Homo sapiens: one gene and its partners. The protein of the gene in region 2 purifies or fractionates together with the protein of the main gene of each other region. This does not show direct contact. Each region holds a gene or a part of one and is shown on either strand. Other genes may lie near its edges.

Region 1 (7,107 bases), on a different chromosome or scaffold from region 2:
ACTGTAATGACAGCAAGCCAGGCAACTATGTTATCGGTGGAGGCAAATTCAAATCTCTGCATTCTAAACAAAATATCAAGTCATAAAACTAACCTCTAAAGGATTACTATTAATGAACACTAAGAAGCACCTCTCTGATTTTGTCACTGGGGGGAAAAAAGGGCCATAGTACCAAATATCACCTGATTTACCTCCCAATTCATAACAATGCCAAACAAGGACAGAAGAAAAGAGAGATGGATTCAAGCATCAATTCTCACTACCCTTGGGAGGGAGGACAAATATGCCATAAGAAGTTTAGAAACAAAAACTCCAGCCCGGGCAACATGGTAAAACCCTATCTCTACTACCGAAAGAAAAAAAAAAAAAATCAGCCAGGCATGATGGCATGCACCTGTAGTTCCAGGTACTCAGGAAGCTGAAGGAGGAGGATCGCTTGAGCCTGGGAGGTGAAGGCTGCAGTGAGCTGAGATTGCGCCAATGCACTCCAGCTAGGGTGACAGACTGAGACCCTGTCTCAAAAGAAAAAAAAAGGAAGGAAAAGAAAAAGAAACAAGCAAAAACTAATTTATGGTGATAGAGGTTAGAGGTTAAAATAGTGGTTACTTCTGTAGGGAGAAATTAATAGGAGGGAGCACAAGGCACCTTTAATCAGTGAAGAAAAATATTCTACATCTCTATCTGGGTATTTCATTTAAAATAGGCTCTAATCACGGAAAATGCTTGCATTCCACAATTCTCATGTCTGTGCTTTTTTTACATCCTCTTCTCCCCAGGTGTAACCCAGTACCTCCCACTACCTGGGAGTTACCTAGGTATACTTATATGTATAAATTCACTGAGTTGTACTTAAGATTTGTGCACTTCACTGTATGTTATACCTAAAAAAAATACTTAAAAACAAGTAACCAATTAATAGCTAAATCTAAAAACCTTTTCTCAATTCTCATCCTTCTTTATCAATCTCCATCATATTGTTAATCACAGAACATCAATATTCCCTAAATGAAACACTTTCCCTTTTGAAGATCGACTAGGCTTTGTTAGGATGTTTTTTCCAGCATTTTCTGTAGTGTCATATTAATTCTCTCTAAATATTAATTCAATATTTATCTTTTTTCTTTTGTTTTTTGGAGACTGAGTCTCACTCTGTCGCCCAGGTGGGGATGCAGTGGCATGATCTTGGCTTACTGCAACCTCCGCCTCTCATGTTTAAGCAATTCTCCCGCCTCAGCCTCCCAAGTAGGTGGCATTATAGGTGCACACCACCATGCCCAGCTAATTTTTGTATTTTCAGTAGAGACGGGATATTTCATCATATTGGCCAAGCTGGTCTCAAACTCCTGACCTCAGGCGATCTGCCGACCTCAGCCTCCCATAGTGCTGGGACTACAGGCATGAGCCAATGCACCCAGTTAATTCAGTATTTATCAAGTGCTCATGTATGAGACACGAATTAGGCACCCTCCAATATATATTTCCAATCTCTCTCTCACACACACACACACACACACACACACACACATACACACACACACACACATATACACACCCAAACCAAATTCCCTAAACTGGATTCAAGCCACTCTATTACCTGGTATCAAACTGTATTTGCTGTTTTAATTCCTATCACTTCTTTATGGGAATATTCTTCTCAAGCATTTTCTGTTCTCAGCTATCCTTTACGGTTCAGTTCAATTTCTATGTTATTCTTTCCCTATACCCCATAGGACTTACTATCTGTAATTGCACTGTCCAATACAGTAACTTCATGTGGCTACTGAATACCTGAACTCTGGCTAGTCTGAATTGAGATGTGCTTTAAGTATGTAATACTAACAGATTTTGAAGACTTAACATGGTTAAAAAAAGAAAAAATGTAAAATAGTTCAATCATGTTTATATGATGAAATAATAGTATTTAGATACTGGGTTAAATAAAAATCCATTAATAAAATTTCACCTATTTATTTTATTTTTTGATGTGGCTATAGAAAATCTAAAATTGCATTTGTGGCTCAACTTATATTTCTATTGGGCAGTGCTGACCTATACAATCTATTTATAAATGCCCACAAATTACCTTTTTCTTCTTCTTCTTCTTAAACTGATAAATACAAATTGTATATATTTATGGTGTACAACACATTTTGAAATACATATAAATTATGCAATGGTTAAATCTAGCTAATTAACACATGCATTACCTCACATAGTTATATTTTGTGGTGTGAACACTTAAAATGTACTCTCCTAGCAACTTTCAAGTATGCAATATTAACTATAGTTACTATGCCCCACAAATTATCTCTTAACATATAATGTCATCTTCCCGATGAGTGCCAGAATTCAACATTAAGCTTTTTTCTTTTATGAATTAAATATTATATTAGGAATTACTAATAGTAATTAAGTGCCATTTAATTTTAATATCCCTTTAAGATTTTTAACAAGGAAGTGTAAGGCATTTCAAAGTGTTCAAATATTAAAAAAAAGTTGTTTTCAGATAGCTATAAATTATACAATTTTTCATCTATATTTTACTTATATACAATTCTAAGTCAAATGTCCCACCAGCAAGGATAGATAGCATGATTAAACCTGTAGCAATCCAAATCCCATAAAGTATTAGTTCTGATTAAGCCTGATTTTTTTCATCTTAGTCACTCAGTAAAGGGCAGCATCCATTTTGGTCAACATCATTGTACCAATGTCCAGCAGCCAAGACAAAGAGCCTTTATATGGTGGTATGAATAGACAATGAGAGCAATACGACACCACTTGAAATAAGGGGGGGGAGAAAAATGTTTTTATAATGCTAAGTTTTAAAACTAGGAGATGAAACTTACAAATTGTGTAACAACTAGGTAAAAGGATATATATGTAAGAAGAACAGGAAGGTAGAACAGAAAGGTCTCCTCTCTAGACCTTCTCAAGATATACCTAGGTTCAAACTTGGCTACTCCATTATTAAGTGGATGTGTTTCCTCACATGTAAAGTGGGAATATATACATCACAGGATTATTAAAAGAATATAGTAGATGCTTAATTAACGTCATCTGTCTTTAATACTAATAATTATATAATGGTAATAAGATTATGGGTGACTTCCCCTCCCTCACTTTCCAAATTGCTGTATTTTTCAAGCATAAATGAAAAACTTACAATTTCATACTAGTACCCCTCCTCAAATGAACCTAAAATTATTTTTACTAGCTGTCTTTGACAAATTTGCTTATAAGCTTAAAATCCGTGTTTGTGCTAGGAGGAGGTTGGTGGTAGAAAGAAAATTAAAGAGGGGGAACTGATAACTTTAACACCATACCAGCACAGACATATACAAAACAAAGTGTGGAGAGGAAAAGAGCAAAAGGAAATGCTGTTTGGGAAATTCCCAACTCAGACTATCCAATGAAAAGATTATATTCCACCCGCCTCAATCTAGCTACCTACCAGCCACTCCTCACTCTCATCTTGGGTTTATACGTACATTACAAATACGCATAGCCACTCACCTTCTTCTCTCTACTAATAGTCACCACATGGCCTCACAGTCAAAAATTGAAAGGAGAGTGAAGAAATTCAGCATGTTATAACAAAGACAAACCAATGCACTGGCTGGGAAATAACTTCATTAAAATGTACTCATTCCCAAGTGTATCTACTCATCTGCTGACAGTGCTGGGAATGCATTCCTGAAATATTTAACCTGGTTATAAGATTCTGCTGCTAGAATCAGAGAAGGCACACTTTGATGCCTACCTCTCACTTCCTCTATAACAACCTTGTCTTTATCGGCATGGCTTAAAATGGGACATTAGCAAAAGTATACAACTGCAAATCACTCACAGGTGAAAATCTCAAGTTAATGTAGAAAGAATAATTAAACAATGGTAATAATAACTATTATTACTCTAACAGGTAACACTTACTTTACTCAGCATTGTATGCCAGAAAGCTAAGGACTTTACATGAATTATGTAATATCAACCCTAAACCTCTTTGAAGATGGTAATTACTAATTCCACTTGCCTAGTGCTCACACAGCTAAATCTGAACCCTGTCAATTTTACTTCAAGGCTTACACTTTCAAACTTTATCATATCCTGCCTCTTTATATATGCATAATTACAATTGCAATTGTGATTCTATGTGTGTGTGTGTCTGTGTGTAAAGTATTTAGTGAGTCAGTAGCAAACAAAAGGCAATTAATTCCAACTCTGTGAAGCCTTTTACCCACCTTCACAAACCAACAATAAATTGGGAATTACCCCTCTCCTCCCCAATAAATGGTGCTCTGAAAGTACTAGTTTTACAGTCATACATCACTTAAGCATGGATGTACATTCTGAGAGATGCATTCTTAGGCAATTTGGTCACTGTGCAAACATCACAAAGTGTACTCAAACAAACCTAGATGGTAGAGCCTACTTACACACCTAGGCTACTTGGTATAGCCTATTGTTCCTAGGCTACAACATGCTCCTGTAAAGCATGTTATTGTACTGAATACCACACACAACTGTAACATAACTGTTTAGTATTTGTGTATCTAAACATAGAACATAAAATACAGTAAAAATACAGTATTACAATCTTATGGGACCACCATCGTAAATGCAGTCCACTATTGACCAAAGAACATCATTATGCTGCACATGACTGTATTTAATATCTTCCTCAAGAAACTAATGAAAGAGATACTTTTAAGTAAAATATTAATCTTTTCAAAAAATTAGATAAAATAATTGATAGACTACAGGTAAACATGCTTTGTAAAGTGTAAAGAATTTTAATCAACACTTTATTAGGTATTTTTAATTTTCAGTTGTCTATTTGGCTCAAAATATACTTACGTTTCTAGAGTTTGAACAAAGTCTTTTTTATTTGAGACAGGGTCTCACTCTGTCACCCAGGCTAGAGTGCAGTGGCACGGCATCTCTGCTCACTGAAGCCTCTGCCTCCTGGGTTCAAGTGATTCTCCTGCCTCGGCCTCCCAAGTAGCTGGGACTACAGGCACGTGCCACCATGCCCAGCTAATTTTTGTATTTTTGGTAGAGACAGGGTTTCATCATGTTGACCAGGCTGGTCTCAAACTCCTGACCTCAAGTGATCCACCCACCTTGGCCTCCCAAAGTGCTGGGATTACAGGTGTGAGCCTCCACACCCGGCCTATATAAAGTATTTTAAAAGCTGTATTTTCAACTTAAAAAAAAGATACACATACCAAAAGGCTTAACACATAAAATCTGCCTTCATCACTCTAACCCAGCTTCAATTCTACCAAAATCTAGGCTAACAGAATTAAGCTTCAAGGAACAAATCATTTATCTTTATTTTTACTTACAAAATCTCAGTTCAAAGGATTCCAAATGAAATGGGAAGACCACAGCTAGCAGACAGAAGAGGTAGGGCCAAGATTAGTAGGAGAGGGGAAAGAAAATCTCCCAGAAACGCTAATCTTAATCCAGTCTCACTTTCTCCCAACCAAGAGAAGTGTGCACTGCTGCTACTTCTGCCCTGGCAGGCTCCTCCTCCTCTTACTCTTGAAATCCTCTGCTTTTTTCCTCCTGGAAAGTTACTCTCACAGGGCTGTTTTTCTTCCTAACATCTCTCAATTGTCAAAGGATTTCTTATCTTGAAATTAAAAGAATAAAAATATACTAACTTTCCATAATCACATAAGAGTTCCCAGGAAGTTCAAAAAGGATAGTAACTACTGCCAGGTGCGGTGGCTCACGCCTGTAATCCCAGCACTTTGGGAGGCCAAGGCGGGTGAATCACCTGAGGTCAGGAGTTCGAGACCAGCCTGGCCAACATGATGAAACCCCATCTCTACTAAAAATACAAACATTAGCCAGGTGTGGTGGCCGGCGCCCGTAATCCCAGCTACTTGAGAGGCTGAGACAGGAGAATCACTTGAACCTGAGAGGCAGAGGTTGCAGTGAGCCAAGATTGCACCACTGCACCCGCGCCTGGGAAACAGACCGAGACTCCGTCCCCCAACCAAAAAGAAAGAAAAAGAAAGGATAGTAACTCCATGGTTCAACTTGGCAGATCTGCAAAAAAAATTATAATGCAGCAACTAAGGCCTTAGAGACAAGAAAACACCTTTTTCATGGGAACTTCCTCTCCCTGAAGAAAGACAGAATTTAATTTAGAGTCTTACTACCCTCTGGGTCTCCTGTGATCTTCATGTTTGTTTCTTAAGGGGAAGAGGAGAAATCTTTTAGCCAACCAGCAGGGTGAGCTAGTGCTAGCATCAGTTCCATGATTCTCAAATCTCCCAAAACTCAATGGTGTAAACGGCTTGCACTATTAACAGCAGCTATTTATTTCCCTCTAATAAACCTGAATCAAAAACACCACTTCTAGAACTGCTTCAGTCAATGCTATACCTGACAACTTTACTCAATATTTACAGATTCTCCATATACGAAATAGACATTCTCTCTACCAGAAAGATTAATAAGTGTAAATAAAAGCTCATTTGAATATGTATCCATAGTATTACAGTATCCACTCTTCATTCTCGTTTTATTTTACAAGGTTACTAATTTAAAACATTTAGAAAACAGTTTAAAAAATGGTTAAAACAAGTGCTCTATAAAATCAGGGTTAGATAACTCAACATGCCAATTTCTCCATTTGCTGCAAGCTACAATTGTCTTAAGACCTGACTGAAAAGCCTTCCCAAGAATAAGATTCACTTTTCCTTCCAGAATCACATCCTGAGAAAATGGTCTAAATAAGTAACACTAAAAAACAATATTTAGGATGACAGAAAAAAAATGGACCTGACCTTTCTCTAGATTGCAGATATCCCACCACTTCTATTCTCTTTGAAACTTTCTTTTCTCCTCCTGCTACCCATTAACAGTCTCAATTCAACCAAAACACTCTTATAACTTGAATGACAAACTAAAACTGGAAAATGTTTAAGGTTGGCAGGTGACAGACCACTTTATAACTACAAATAACCTGAAAGTGACTCTAATTTTCACAAAATGAAAGTGTAAGTAAATCCACTCACATAATGTTGAAAATTATAAAACAGCTTATCAACTAACAAAAATCAGTAATTTAAAAGCACCTTATATGACCCA
Region 2 (8,100 bases):
GCGAGAAAACCAAGGCTCAGCAGTTGGGTAACTCACCCAAGTTCCCAGTTACTGCAGACCTGTCCTCCTACCAGACCATGTGAGTTCAAAGAAGCAAGACTTCACATTTCCTCCTGTCAATATATCCCTCTAGATTTGTGGAGCCTGAGGCCAAACAGAAAACTTCTATTTCAGTTTAGGCAGAACTGGACAAAACAAGGCAACTAACAACCCTTGACTTGGCCACAAAACATCATCTTAGTGTCTTTCCCAGCCTTGTCAGACTATCGCGTTCATTTACAATTGCGTATCACTTCTGCCCTACAGATAATACTGCCTTTATGAAAACAATACAACTCTATACCTTTAGAAACAAAACCAGGTTTCAGGGAGGCATTTTAAGCCAGTTACCATACAATCATCATCACTTACTGGGTGCTTGCCATGGGAATTTTAGGGTGGGCTTTACATATGTTCTCATGTAAACTTCATAGCTCTATAAGGGAAACACTGATCCCAATTTCACAGATGAGGAAACTGAGCTTTCAAGGCTAATTTACCCAAGGTGATAGAGTTGGAAGTCACTAACTGGGTTGTCTGACTCCAAATCTAGGCTCTCAACTGCCATGCAAAACTTTCAATGTCAACTTTCAATGGTAACATAGTCACAGTGTTGCCTACAAGTAAAAGAAAAGTTACAAATTTTGCCTTGAAAGATACTGACCACTACATATTTACTACACATACTTAAATTTATCACCTGAACTATACTTCTATAATACCTTTTTTTCCAAAACTAAAATAAAACTCAGAATCAAAAGTTCAATTGTGCAGGTGTATCATTTATTTGCAATATACTTACTTCCTCCCCAACAGACACTCCTTGAAAGCATGAACCATTCTCACACCTCAGTATTTCCCCATGAAACCTCCATATGGCAAGCATTCAATAAACGTTAAATGAACACAAACTTAGTACAAAATGTTACTCATTAATAACTTCTGTTAGGAACAGAAACCTGAAGATATAGAATAAGCACAGAAGGAACTAAACTTAGTTCATAATATACTAATGGGAAATGTGCTGTCTTCAGAATCATTCTTACACACATAGGATACAACTTACGTATAAGGTGCTACTCTCATCCACTGATGGAACTGATTATGTAATCATACTCATAAAAGCAAATGCCAAGAGTGAACACTCATGACTAAACAACCAAAGAATGATCTAATGTAGAAACTAAAATCCCCCATACCCTCATGCTATGTACTTCCCCCTGTACAGACTTCACCTGGAAGACCTCAACCTCAAACATCCTAGCCTCCATTTCTGTGTCTTCCAGACACACAACACTTTCCTTCCTAGAAGGAAAGCTCCTGAGAACAGGGAGATTTTTCTTCTTTTACATCCCCAAATGACCTAAAATAGTATCCTGAATACAGCGGGGCACAGCTAATGTGTAAAATGGTTGAAAAGAATGGAACATTTTCAGTACCAGCTAAGGTATACTGACCACATACAATGTAAGGAGAAGCAACAACCTTACCCTTAATTCTACAGATGGCAGCTTCCTCCTGAGAACTTCTGCAAACACTTGCTCTTAAAAAGCAACAAAAAAGTTGCTAGAAGACTAACATCGCAGACAACAAAGCTCTATTCTATGCCAACAGCAATAATACGCCCATAAGAGAAGACAACTGAAAGGATCCCTGGGGCCACAGGGCTCTACTTGTTACAGATGCTTCCTTAAGTCCCTCAACACCCAGGTCCCTAAACGCATCATAAAGGTGAGTCTAGAGAGTCTTCGCAAGTTTTAAGTCTCTTAGGAACTTATTTATAAATACATGTGAAACAAGAGAATCATTTATCCAGAAGAACAGAAAGCCTTCCAAACTTCTGTACTCCCAGGAAGTCTACTTTGAAATACGTCAAAAGAAGTTACATGGAGACATACAAAACATGTCTAAAGATCCAAATTGGTAACTCTCAAACTTGAAGCTGGTTTAAACCCATCGACCAGAACTTACAGTTCTGGCTATGCCCTTCTCATTTGCAACGCTGCGGCGCAAATGAATGACGGTGTATCAGCGTTAAATTTAAATTTCCTGGCTCTGGCCACAATGCTAACCTAATTAAAGCATGTGGTCAACGTTTAGCATTTTCGGTGCGAGATTTTGCATCGCTTTGGCGAACAGCAAAGTCGAAAGCGTTTGCACCGGTCTTCTCCCCGCCACCCCCCGACCAGGGGCAAAACCCTCTCCCAAATGCTTTATCAAATGATCCAGAAACCCCCCCACACCCCACCCCCCGTACCGCCCACGGTCCCCGCCGAGCGGCAACGGAGGCACCACTTCCACGACCCACGCCAAGAGCACTTTGAGCTCAGTCCGAGCAAGTCACTTGTGTCAGCACCACTTCCCCACGGCTGGGACCCCCCCCCCCACCCCACGCCCGGCAACTTCAGGACCCCCCGGCCGGGGCCCCTCGGAACGGAGGCTCGGGCTCCCCTCACACACATTTCCCGTCCAGCAAACTGCGGCCGCGGCGGGGGAGGGGACGCGGCGGGCGCGGGCGGCGAGCGGGGCCGTCGGGCGGCGCGGCCGGGCCGGGAGGGGCGGCGGGCGGGGGGCGGCCCGAGGCCGGGGGGAGGGGAGGTACCTCGTACAGCTCCTCGGAAGCCATGGTGGGCGGCGGAGTTGCGGGCGGGAGGGGCAGGGTCGGGGCGGGCGCCGGCGCCGGGCGGCCGACACTTTGTTTCAGTTGGGTCCTGCGTGGCCTGCGCTTCCTGCTCCCGCGGCCGGCCGGGCGCTGGGCACGGACGAGCCTCTTGCACTCCGCGGCCAGTGCGGGCCGGCGGCGCGGCGGGGTTGTGCGCAGGAGCAGCTACGCAACGCGCCCTGGGCGCCCCGCGCTCACTCCCCGGCGGGCCGGCTCGCGCTCGGGCTCATCGCGCCCCGCCGCGGGGCCGGGCGGGCTGGGGCGGGCGCGGCGGCGTGCGGGCGGCGCGGCCGGATCGCGGCTCCCCTCTCCGGTGTAGTGCAGAAAGCTTCCTACTTGCGACCAAAAAACCTGCCCCGGCTACTGAGCATGCCCAGTGCGGCCGCCCGGCCCTGCGGAGCCGCGCTCCCGCGCTCCGGGTTTTCGGGCCGCCCGCGCGGGAGGGGCGGGGCGGCGGCGGGGCGGGGCAGCCGAGGGGAGCAGTGGGCTCCGCTCGGGGCCGAGGCGGGCGGCCGGCGGGGCCGGGAGCGAGCCGGCAGGAAGGGGAGGAGCGGGGCAGTCGGGGGCGGGGCCGCGAGCGCGGGGGGCGGGGTGGTGGGCGGGGCTCCGACTTCCCCAGTCCCGCTTGCGGGGTCGGCCTGGCCCGCGGCACCGCCCCCCAGCCCGCCTCGACGTGGGCGCTTGCGGCCCGGCCCAGGGCAGGCGGGACCTGGACCTCGAGGTTCGAGGCGCAGCGCGGTTGTGCACACCAGGACGGGCAGCGACGGACCCGAGATGGGGCAGGGAACCATGCGAGCGAGCCGGCCCGCGTCTGGAGCCCACCGCCCCGACGGCAGCGGCCGCGCCGTCTACCGCGCGCCTCCCTCCAGGAGGAGCCCAAGAGGCGGCCTCCGTGCGCCCGCCCGTCCGGGGCCGGGCCAGCCCGCGAAGGGCCGGCGGCGTGGCCAGGTGGAGCACCCACCCCACCCCATGCCCGCCCCACCGGCCGCCGCCAAGACCCGGAGCCCGGGCCGCGCGCCCCGCGGGGTGGCCCGGCGAGCTCCGGCTGGCACGCTGGCTCCGCGGCAGGCCGGGGGTGGGATCCGGGGGGCGGGAGCCGGGCGCGGCGGAGGGCGGCGCGAGGGCGCGGCTGCCTCCGCTCTGCCCGCAGCTCCCCCCACGCCAGGCCTCTGGGTTCCTCTCGGAGCGTCCGCCTCCTCCGAAGCGCAGCTGGGAAGGGACCGAGTCTGGATTCCAGGGAGGTCCGGGTTCTAATCGAACGAGGCTGTCAATGGTGGTTCCTTTCGCGGAACGGTGTGGACTACACGACAGGCCCTCGCTCAGAACAGCGAGGGCTGGCCCGCGCTCCACTTCCCAGGGAAGATCTACTGCCAGGGCACACCTGCCGGGCCCTGGACGTGCCCCATCGGTGGCGAAAGAAGGGGCTTCCTGACCCAACTCCCCCAGACAGCCGCCAACTCCGATCACTCTGGCCGAGTATGCGGAACTTCCCCACGGGGCACTGCAGAGGCATTAGTTCACCCTCTCCCCCAGGCCCTGCATCGGGAAGCCCTCGCCAGTTCCTCCATGTCTCCCCGGGCATCCTTCGGGCCGCCTCACTCCTCCGTGCTCCATCTCGCTCCAGTTCCTAACCTACCTTGGAGCCACAAGGCTCCTCCCACCAGTTTTCTTCCTAAAGCCCTATTCGTTTGTGCCCCCCAACAGCGTTTCAACAACCACGGGGCGTCTCACAGACCCCGCGGTTTCCTGTCCTCCCCACGCCCAGGAACAAGCACCACGCCAACCCTTAAGTCACTGCGAGTCGAATCGCCGTTCCCCTTAAGCGGTGCTTCTACCTGCGGTCCCCACCGTTTGAAACAAACTCCCAGCTCAGGGATCACCTTAAAAGGATAGCCTTCCTGACTTCCAGGGCCAAATCGGTAACTCCCTCTTCAAGCGCTGCCTAAGCACTCACGCGTGCTCACTGCAGCACTCGTCTCTGTATTTTAAGGTTTGTCTACTCTTCACCCCACCCCAACTCCAAACGATGACCTTCAGTCAGACTTCATCTTCAAATTTGACGCTGGCCCCTAGCACCATTCTCTATACAGGAAATAAGGTGTTGTTCAATGAATGGAATTTCAGTGTCCACGAGAAAGCCCAATACCTACACATCCAATTCCCATTATCAAATGTTTGCACAAGAATCGCAAATTAAAGCCACCACTTCATCAACTGGTCAAGGCGCCTCAAGCTCTGCCTCTTTCCCTGATGGCCCAGCCAATTCCCTCTCCCTCCTCCAAACAGCGCCTCTTTCCTCTCACTTAGCATTTCCATTATATGCTGCATTTCATTGTTGCCTTCTCTCTAGGTTTACCAATTTATCAACAAAAGTTGTAAGTTCCTTGAAGGCAAGGACTAGGATTTTATACATTTGGGAAATCTCAAAGCATTGAGTGCACACTTCGGCAAGCGCTCAAATACTGGCAGGTGATAGTTTAAAATCCCTCAAGAAAAATCAACTGTAAAAAAGAGATCCTCAATAGGAAATAGATACATATAACATATAAGCCTATTATGCAATGATGGACCAATACAAATACAAGCACTTCTCGCCATGACCATTACTCCAATTATTGCCCCCTTCAGAACATCCACAAGCTTAGGCATTCACAAGGGGCTCCACCATGTGCGTAATGGTACTGTGGTCTCCAAGGAGTCTCCAAAACTGCCATTGTTGCCCAGGAGAGGGAAAGAAAGGAACATAGACATCCACAACAAACATATCCAGATATTGAGCTAGTAAGGCGATTTTCCCCATTGTGGAAACAAAAAGGGGAAGAATTATAGCCTCAAAAAGGCAACTCAAAAATGTCAATTTACATAGACCTTTGTCAATTTACGTAGCTTTTCAATCTTGACAATCTGGAATGTTTATGCTGCTATCCTTAGTCTACAACATTAAGAGTAACCACCAGTAGCCTCTAAAACAAAGCAGGAGTGAGCCATACTCCTAAGTTCCAACCACCTCTCCACTCTGACAGTTGGCTTCCACTGGCGAAGGAGATGGGTATCCACCTAGCGACTGAGAAATTGAGGAAGTTCTCAATTGTCCACTTTGTTCCTTTCATCTGCCCTCCATTTAAAACTCACTGATTTATGGAATGCTATTTTGCTTATATATACATATATATTTTAACCTCATTCGTTCAATTTGTCTTACTTTTAAGCAAACTTTGCTTTCCTCCGTCACTTTTTTATATAAACATTTTACCAGCACTCATAGCAGAAGTAAATATGCCCAAGATTATTTAATGACTTGGAATTTCCACCACCTTTTATGAAACAGTGAAGTTCTGTAGTTTCCATGACCACGTGTGTGGGTGCTATTATTTTCTCAGTGGCTTAAGAATAAAAGTGAAATCACATCCCCTAAGCACACCGGGAAGATTGCAGCAAAAATACATACAGCACAATACCATGCACTAGTAAGACATATGACTCTTAAAAGATTAGAGAAGTGGTCAACAAGAGAGACGATATACACACATGATTAAAAGACACGTCTACCAGCAATAAACGATTCTTACCTGACCTGCTCCCGTTGTTGTAGGCCAACATAATTCAATTCTCTCCTCCTCAAATCCAAACAATTGATCATCGATGGCAAGTTCTACCGACGATAAGACTCTTCAGATCAAGAATCACAGCCTCTTCCCATCTCGGGAGAATGATAACTAAAACCTGAAATCTGAGATCCTCCTCTTTTCCCAATCACCAGCCAAACCAGGCATGTCTTCCTTTCTCCCAAGAATCTGCATTTCATCTACATTTGAATCCAAAGGCATCCAAGGGGAGATGGGGGATGGGACAGAAAAAAACAAAAGAAGCCAAAATCTAGCTACTACTATTCTCAGAGCCAAAGGCGTTTTATGGTTGGGTAGCTGTGAAAAGCTACTGATAATGATTCCCTTCAACAGTTTTGTACCCCCAAAGCATATTCTATCCTGGTTACCTCCTCCATAACCCAAAATTTAATTGTGATTTTTATGAAGATGCGACCTAAGTTTGTTGGTTTTAAACCCACAGTGGCTGAAGGGAAATTAAATGCCGTTCTTGTCATAGAGTATCTACTCCAGAAAACTTGGTGGAATTTCCATCTCAATCACCCACTCAAAAGAAAGAACATTTTAAACCTGAGACCCAAAAGAAAGAAGCATACAGAACCATTTATAAGATTAATTCAGATGTTAGGGGCCTTGTCTGAACTGGGAGCCAACCAGTTCTTCCTTCCCTAAAAGCTTAGAGTGGATACCAGTACCTTTTTCTGGTCAACCAATAACAGCTGATTCCTTTTTTCAGTCACTGTTGCCTTCCCTGCCCAAACAGTCAGTTTCCCCATTTCGAGGGGCAGCCTCTCCCTGCCGCCCTCCATGTTGGTCCCAGGTAGGTACCATTTCTCTCTTTCATATAGAAGCCAGTAGCCAGCTGCCACACTGCTGCTCCTTGGCCAGATATCACTAGTTGTTTCATCTCTTTGCCCTCGTGATGCCAATTCTGAGACCTCTTAACATTTGATTTCACCAATTTCATCTTAGGCTGTGATACCATCACTGGCCGGAGCTCATCAATCTACAATTAAGGATCATTTGCTTTTTCAACTAGATTTAGTGTTTAAGTACGGTTCCTTTTTCTATTTAGCTAATGGTGTTCTACCAAGAGAATCCTTGTAATATGTACTTGTTGAACTTTTTTTGATTAAAGTAATGAGCAAGAGCAAGGAAGTTTTTCATTGATAATTTTATACATTACCCCATTTTTGGAAAGCAAAAAGACCAAAAATCATAAAGAGGAAATAGGCACAGGTATTCCCATAATTTTGGTTGACTTTATGCCAAGGCAGTAACTAACTCATTTTGGATCCCTGGAAAAAAACAGCAAGTACTGTTTAACTTTCCCTTGAATTATTGTGATGATTAATTGCATTTGTCTCTCAAGTCAGACCATCCCAGTATCGTCTTTACCTTTCCATTTCTAGACAGAGAGAGAAAGAGAGAGAGAGAACAACTAGGCAAGAGATGAGTGTGGACATTTTGACTGGTAAGGAAAATAGAAACACAAGACCCACCAGAAGTGGGGGAACCCAGAATTATCCCAGGAGCAGGTGGATGTTGAATCTAAAGCAAAGTGTAAATGAGTTGGAAGATTGGGGCCAGACCAGCACTTGGAGGCGCTTAGTGGGGCTTGATTTTTTTTCAATCACTAGTATTGTCTAGTGTAGAAGTTCTCAAAGTGTGGTTCCCCAAACTAGCAGCAACGGCATCACCTTGGGACTTGTTCAAAGTGCAAACACTCAGCTGGACGTGGTGGCTGACGCCTGTAATCCCAAAACTTTAGGAGGCCAAGGCAGGTGGATCACC
Region 3 (7,107 bases), on a different chromosome or scaffold from region 2:
TTTTTTTATTCCAGGCAATCAAAAGCTTATTTGCAATGAGTATTACCGTCTGAACAAATTTTTCCCCTCAAAACAATTCTACCACCATTTCTTTTAAGTATTGCCGTCATCTACTTAGTTATGTAGACTCTAAGTCAGAGATTCTCACAGCAATGGAGATGGGGATAGAAGCCTGGAAAGAGGGGTCCTACTTTAGGGTGAAAGATGGTTACCGTGCCAAGGGCTGGCTCACCATCCCTCTCCTCCAATAAAATTAAGTTACTTAACTTTGTTATTACTCTCAGGAATTCTGGGGTATAAAAAGGTTAAGAATGTACTGAAATTAAAATTAGCAATTTACTACAGTATTAATAATTCAGAAGTAAAATGATATCATAGAAAATAAGGACTGGGAACAGTGGCACACGCCTATAATCCCAGCACAAGACAGGAGGATCACTTAAGGCCAGAAGCTCGAGACCAGTCTGATCAACATATCGAGACCCTGTCTCCACAAAAAAAAAAAAAAGCCGGGCATGATGGCACATGCCTATAGTCCCAGCTACTTGAGAGGCTCTGAGGGAAGGATTGATCACCTGAGCCCAGGAGTTTGAGGTTGTAGTGAGCTATGATTTGCGCCACTGCACTCCAGCCTGGGCAACAGAGAGAGACCCTGTCTCAAAAAAAAAAAAAAAAGAAAGAAAGAAAAAGAAAATAAGCACTAGGAATCTAGGAATACAGAAGGCTGGGTTCCAGTCTAAACTGTGCCATAGATGAATTGCACGACCTAGGACAAACTACGTAAACTCTCTGCTCACTTTCATTTTCTCTATGATCAAAAGATTTAGATTTCTTCAAGACCTAACTTTACTTTTATTATAAATTGCTCTAGAAACCTAACACTACTAAGGAGTATGCAGCTAAATGCATGGGATATGTTTAAATTTATTTTTTTAAATCTAGGACTGTTAAAAAAATCTCAATTTGCAAAAACAATTTTTTGGGGTGCTACTTCATGAATTTCATACCTACATAATAAGTTATTGTTCTAAGCCACAGAATAAGACAAACAGAACAAGCCCCAAGCAATGACTGGTACTTGAACAATTTAATCACTGCAATGAATTTTGAATGAACATCAAGCCAGGCAGGCATTTCTAGATAGCTGATTACTTTTCATAAAGACATGCTTAAGCTTCAATGGCAGTGTTTTATTTCTGAATTATTTAGAAAACTGGTTAGTCTCACTTACCAGAATTATCTTAAAGTAATTCACTTGTTTCTCCCACCAAACCTTTCCCACCTATTAAAGTACCCTAACTCTTAACTGCCAATGAATTAAGATTTTTAGGACTCTCACGCACTGGTGATCTTGACTACTTTTAAAATCTTAATAGCTCTGAAGTATAAACATGAAAAAAAATTCATTATTAGTGTCGAGAATTATTTGAAGCTTAAATTCACTGCAGTGAAACACATTTTGCTTAGAGTAGAAATTAATGTTTTCATAAGTAACATTTAACATAATCCTTCGTTAAAAAAATCCAAATACACTCAAAAAATACTAAGCAAGGAGTCCATTTTAAAGAGAAATGGATAGGTGTGAAAGTGAATAAACAGATTATATACCCTCTTTGAAAGTACTAAAATACTTAAATAGAAAGAAGCAAATCCATTAATTTTCTCTTTATATCACAGAAATGTGGCCTAGGTGAAAAGACAGGTCTTGAATTGTCCATGGATTTTTTTCCTTGAGAAGAAAGTCCCTTACGTGTTTACAAACGCTAAAATACAAGACAAATTGTTCGTTCCCAAAGGTCCCTAGTACATTCCTTATAAAACCCAAAGGATTAACTATTTCTTCCTCTCATTTTTTCTCTCATTTTCCTCTTATTTTTGCAGTTAGTAAAACTGCAACTATCCTGTAATTTCCTTCAAGTGTGACTAGGAGAGCGTCCTTTTAGAAGGTTGGTAAATAATTTTAAGGGATAATAAGCAATGAGAAATATTGCCAAAAAGTATTAAGCAAGGGAGCATATGCTATTTATTCTAAGTACATTAAATACGGCTTTAATGTTATCACAACTGAAGAACCAATATATACTTCCTATTATGGACTAAGATAATCAGATCAAATATAAAAAATTAGTATATCCTATTCTCATCTAAAGCACTTTCTATTCAAGAATTAAATATTTTTCTGGAAAAACATGGTCAGGGTCATGCTCTTGTAGGAAGCATCAATTTTTTTTTTTAAAAGCCCAGAAGCATAATACCTACATTTTTCTCTGGAGACATACTTCTTCAATAACCTGTTTTCCCCCTCAGATTTAACAAATAGATATATACTGTTGCTTTGCACTTACTGTTACTTCACAAGCTATCCTTAAATCCTCAGATTTATTTGATCAAAAGCACAATAATTCAGCATCTGGATTATTTAATCACATGCTTTTATATTGGCTTCATAAAGAATGAATCTACTGAGAGCTCAAAGTAAAAGCCAACCAAGCATTTCTCCTTTGTCTAATTGTTTAAAACCACTGGTCTCAAAAATCGTCATAATTATTCAAGTATTGAGGCCAGGAAAACTATAAATCAATTGTACTTTTCACTTCTTCACCTGTCTTAGATTTTTTTGTAGGACACAGATCACGAAAGTTCCTCTAACTCTTCCCCAATTCACTATACATGAAACTATCTACAAGTAACTGAAGAATATAGAAGATAAATTGTTTAAAGATACCAGGTCATTAAATAAACACTAAAAACCAAATAAAAACAAAATTCCAGTTCTTTCCTTCTTGCAGTTGAACAATCCATGCGTTCCCACAAAACATTCCATTCTCCAACTGATAAAATATTTAAGAAAACTAAAACATACATTAGAAAATATTAGGAAATGATTAGTGAATCAAAATATTTTTTTCCTTTATCTTACAATAACGCAACCATCTTTAATTTTTAAAACAAAAAAGTTAACATAATTTCTTTTACATATTAGATTTTTTAGTTCCCTCGGCAATAAAATTTATTTTTTAAAAACACAGAAATTTTAAATTTAAGTTTTTTAACTTAAATTTCTCTGTATAAGCTATTTTCCTTCAGTAATATCTTGCCTTAGTATATGACTACACACCTCAAAGCTCAAACCATCCTGAGCAACACCATGAAAGAAGAAACCACATTACCTATGTAGCACATTGCTGCTTACCCGATATTCACTGAAAGGGGTCCACTGAAGACACTAACTGACAAAATGTATAAATCCAGCTACACACAACTCCTTAAACATGAAGGAAACAAACACTTAAGAATAAGAACCTCACCAGGACTAAAATCCAGGTACCGATTCTCAGTCTACTGGAACAAACGCAGTCACATTTTGGGGAAACAGAAAGTACTACGTTCTCCAATTCATGTGCCTGGAAATACAATTCTTTAACCACCAAGAGCAAAAGAAATGAAAATAAATCTAAGATCTAAATTTAGTTGTAAATTAGAGATATTGAATGTTTTAAAAAGAATACTCGCAGCAAACAGTCCTGTCTGCTACAGCAAAATCTCACCCTCCTTCCTAAATCTGTTTTGGGGTGCCTGTGAAACCATGAAAATGGCAATTCAAACAAGAGAAATGCCTTATCAATCAAAATTTACAGTGGCTTATTTCAAAGGAGTCATAAAAAAAATCCAAATACATCATCTCGAACTCTCAGGAATAAAGAATACTGAAATTCTTCCACGGGTAAGGAAAAACGGAAACAAAACAAATCCCACAAAACTTCAGATATTTTAAACATTTTTTAAACTTCCAGTTATTTAAAGTTCCAGTAGCGTATACTTAGTTCCGATTAATAAATCAACAGCAGTTGTATGCCCGCCAACTGCGGCCCAAATATGTAAAATCAAAAAAAGGGGCTTTAGGAACTTGTTTACTATAAAACGAGCAAAAAGAAACAAGAAAAAGCTTCTCCAATGAAAGAAAAATTAGAAGAGAAAGAAGACAAGAATAGGTAGCCTTGATTTGGAAAGGGGGTGGGGGGAAGCCTGGAAAGTGAAGGTGGTGGGGGGAGGTGGAAAAGCAGCTCAGAGGTTGTACCTTGGGGAGCGGGAGATGGAACTGTCTGGATAAATGGGCAGACTCCCCCCAACCTGGAGGGCTGGATTGCGGCTGGCCAGATTAATTTATCCACTCTCATTTTACCACGATCATGAAAATTACAGAGTTAATCAAAGGCCGTCAGCCTTACGTTTTCCCCACTAACACAGACTGGATGTCAGTCGCAAATGGATGGGGGTGACGCGGAAGGGCGCAACAGCATCTCGGTTAGGAAGGGAAAAAACTTCGCAAGAGGAAGCAGCAGCTTCTCTCCTGGCCCCTAGCACCGGCCGGCGAAGTTGCGCCACAGGCACCCCTTCCCCGGCGGGCGCCCCCTCCCCCTCGCACCGCACTACTACGCTGCACTACCCTTCAAACTGCCCCCGAAGTCCAAGTACGCCTCCGCTTCCTCCTACCCCCGGACCCATCCCAACTAAGTTCCAGGCGAAGCTCCCGCCCAGAGAATGGCCTGTTCCGGACAACAGGTGGGCAGCGGCGCCAGCAGGGCCGGGCCTCTCCTGGCCAGGCCCACTCCACTCCTCCCCGGCCCAGGGCCGGGGGCGCCCGGCTCCGGGACAGGGAGGGGGAGCTCGCTCCCTTACCTCCGCCATATTTGCCGTACTGCCGGGTCACATCTCCGCGGCGGCCGCAGCTGGGTCACGGCCAGAACCCGGATGTGAGACTCAGCAACGGGACTCCGGCCGCTGCCGTCTCTGCCGCTCCCGCCGCCACTGCCTCGGCGGGAACGCGCAGGAGCCGCCCGAGCGCGCCCACCACACCCCACTCCGCCCCCTCGCGGCGCCCCGGCTGGGCTGGACTGGAGGGAAAAGACCAGCGAGCACGCGCCGGAGCAGGGGCGCGCGCGCGGCCCCGCGGCCAGCCCTCCCCGGGAAGAGCGGAGGGGGCGGAGTCAAGGTGGGTGTGGGAGGAGGTGGGCAACCGCGCGGGGCGCTTCGCTGGCTCCAGCTGATCCGCCACTCCAGGCGGAGGGGGTTGTCTACGGATCAGAGAGGTCAAGGAACAGTGCCAAAGGAGTCACATCCAGCATTGACACAGCAGAGGAAAAATACGTAATATTTTACATGTAGGTCGTTTTTGAAATGCATTTGCTGAAAAACGGATGTTGCTGTGATGCAACGGCGGCAAGAACTGTGCTTTGAAAGCGGTTATGCCTTGACAAATATTTCTCCATCAGTAGATTCCCGACAGGAAATGTAAAATTCTATATCCCCAAATCTCTAGAGAGGTCAGAGCAAAAATTAATGGAAGGGGTTATGATAGGCAGTCCGCCATCCTCATGTCATTTGCGTTTTCTCACACACTTCTGTCATGCCGGTAGCAACACAGTTATGTACTGAATTTTGCACAACTAGACAAAATTTAAAATACTGAAAATTGACTGTTTTATGGATATCATCTATTTAGTAGCATGGAGGGAGAACCTACTTATTTGCAATGCCTGAAATGCCTGTAACTTGAAAGTTTATTTTAATGTATTGGCCTACAGCTGCCAATTGGCCGTGATGCCAATGCTGATGATGGCCAGAACCAATGATTTCAAAGTAACTAACATGTTTCACTTCCATTATACTAAGGCACATACTGAATAACACAAAGGTGACATTAAAACAGTCACTAACATATTTTACTAAACCAGTTTGAAAGTCTTTATTTCAAAAGACTGGGATTTTTTTCCTAATCTTCAAGGGTTCCTCTTAATGCAGTTTCAAAAGTGGCTACCAAAATCAACCATTTAAATACGAGAATTATTCATTCCTTCCAAATAATGTGAACCAATACTACATTGCATAAATGTGTACATATACAATTTTTCTTAAAGTTAATACTTAACTTATAATGCAATATAGGGGAGGCTATTAAATTATTTATATTCCCTTAAAATTCTAGACTCTATCAAGCATTTTCCTATTTCCAAAGATTCAATGTTAATTTGAAACTGTTATGTCCAATAATAATCTGTGCATGAATAAACTGCATTTACAGATATATGAAGTAGCTGCTAAGTGAAAGGACATTACCTGGTAATTTGACAGGAAAAGAGTCCACAGACAGTCTGTAAACCAATTAAACATAAACATCTGATGCACATTTTCTACTGAAAGAAAAGCAAGGGAAAGAAGAGAAAGGAAAACTTTAAGGTTCCCAAATCTACAAACAATTTTTACCATTAACTGTACTGTACAGTATTTTCATTTTATTTTTTAGAAAACTTATATAAAAGTGTTTTTCAGGATTCCTTGGGGGAATAAATATTTTAGCAGAGGTATATAGTTTCTAATAGTTACCCTGTTGAATTATGTCAATCCTCTGGACTTGAAATAAAAATGACTTTTTAAAAGTGTCAGTTCATATCCAAATAGTTTTCAATCAATACACTTAATGAAAAGAGCTGAAGGCAAAGAACAATGGATATACATGGACCTGAGGTGGGTACAGACACAATTAGGGGCCTAGAGGTACAAACTCAGGCTTTATACCATGGAGATGAAGGAGGGTTTTCCATTAACATATGAAAGCTAATTTATGAAATTTGGCTACCAAAGGAAAATTAAAAGTGTTACAATACAAGGTACAGAAATAACTTGCTTAAGTACACTGAATCTTTGATTCTTCAGTTAAACTACCAACAGAAATCCCAACTATGATAAAGAGCAGGGGATCATAGTCTATTAACCTACTGAATGAATCCTAAACTTGTCAGGAAAATGGAAGTCTGAAACATTTCTGAATGGGTATCTATCTTACTGTTAAATAACTCTTTAAGTTTATTAATATTGTGTATCAATATTACTAGTTTTAAATGGTATTATTATTATTGAGGGAAAAAAACTCTCTACATTTTTCCCCTTCCCCTTTTTATAAATGTGGATTCAGTGGGTTTTTTAGGTTCAGATATTATAAAAAAGAAACAGCTCTAATACTGCAATTCATAGGTAACACATTACCACTGAATTCAGTATCCTTCCACTATTATTTTATTTTAGTGATACACCTAACTGTAAAATTTT

Evidence for each region.
Region 1: the proteins of CDYL (region 2) and ZNF644 purify together in Homo sapiens (affinity purification with mass spectrometry; 2 studies listed by BioGRID and IntAct, with this or other methods). This does not show direct contact.
Region 3: the proteins of CDYL (region 2) and MIER1 purify together in Homo sapiens (co-immunoprecipitation; 4 studies listed by BioGRID and IntAct, with this or other methods). This does not show direct contact.

Annotation. Positions count from the first base shown.
Region 1 is NC_000001.11:91,011,959-91,019,065, forward strand, and holds part of ZNF644 (zinc finger protein 644), read right to left. Parts: intron 1-7,107.
Region 2 is NC_000006.12:4,771,349-4,779,448, reverse strand, and holds the start of CDYL (chromodomain Y-like protein), read right to left. Parts: upstream 3,046-8,100; 5' UTR 2,666-3,045; coding exon 2,642-2,665; intron 1-2,641.
Region 3 is NC_000001.11:66,927,974-66,935,080, reverse strand, and holds part of MIER1 (mesoderm induction early response protein 1), read right to left. Parts: intron 6,195-7,107; exon of another isoform or gene 6,192-6,194; coding exon of another isoform or gene 6,118-6,191; intron 4,826-6,117; exon of another isoform or gene 4,690-4,825; coding exon of another isoform or gene 4,681-4,689; intron 1-4,680. UniProt on the Homo sapiens protein: Transcriptional repressor regulating the expression of a number of genes including SP1 target genes. Probably functions through recruitment of HDAC1 a histone deacetylase involved in chromatin silencing.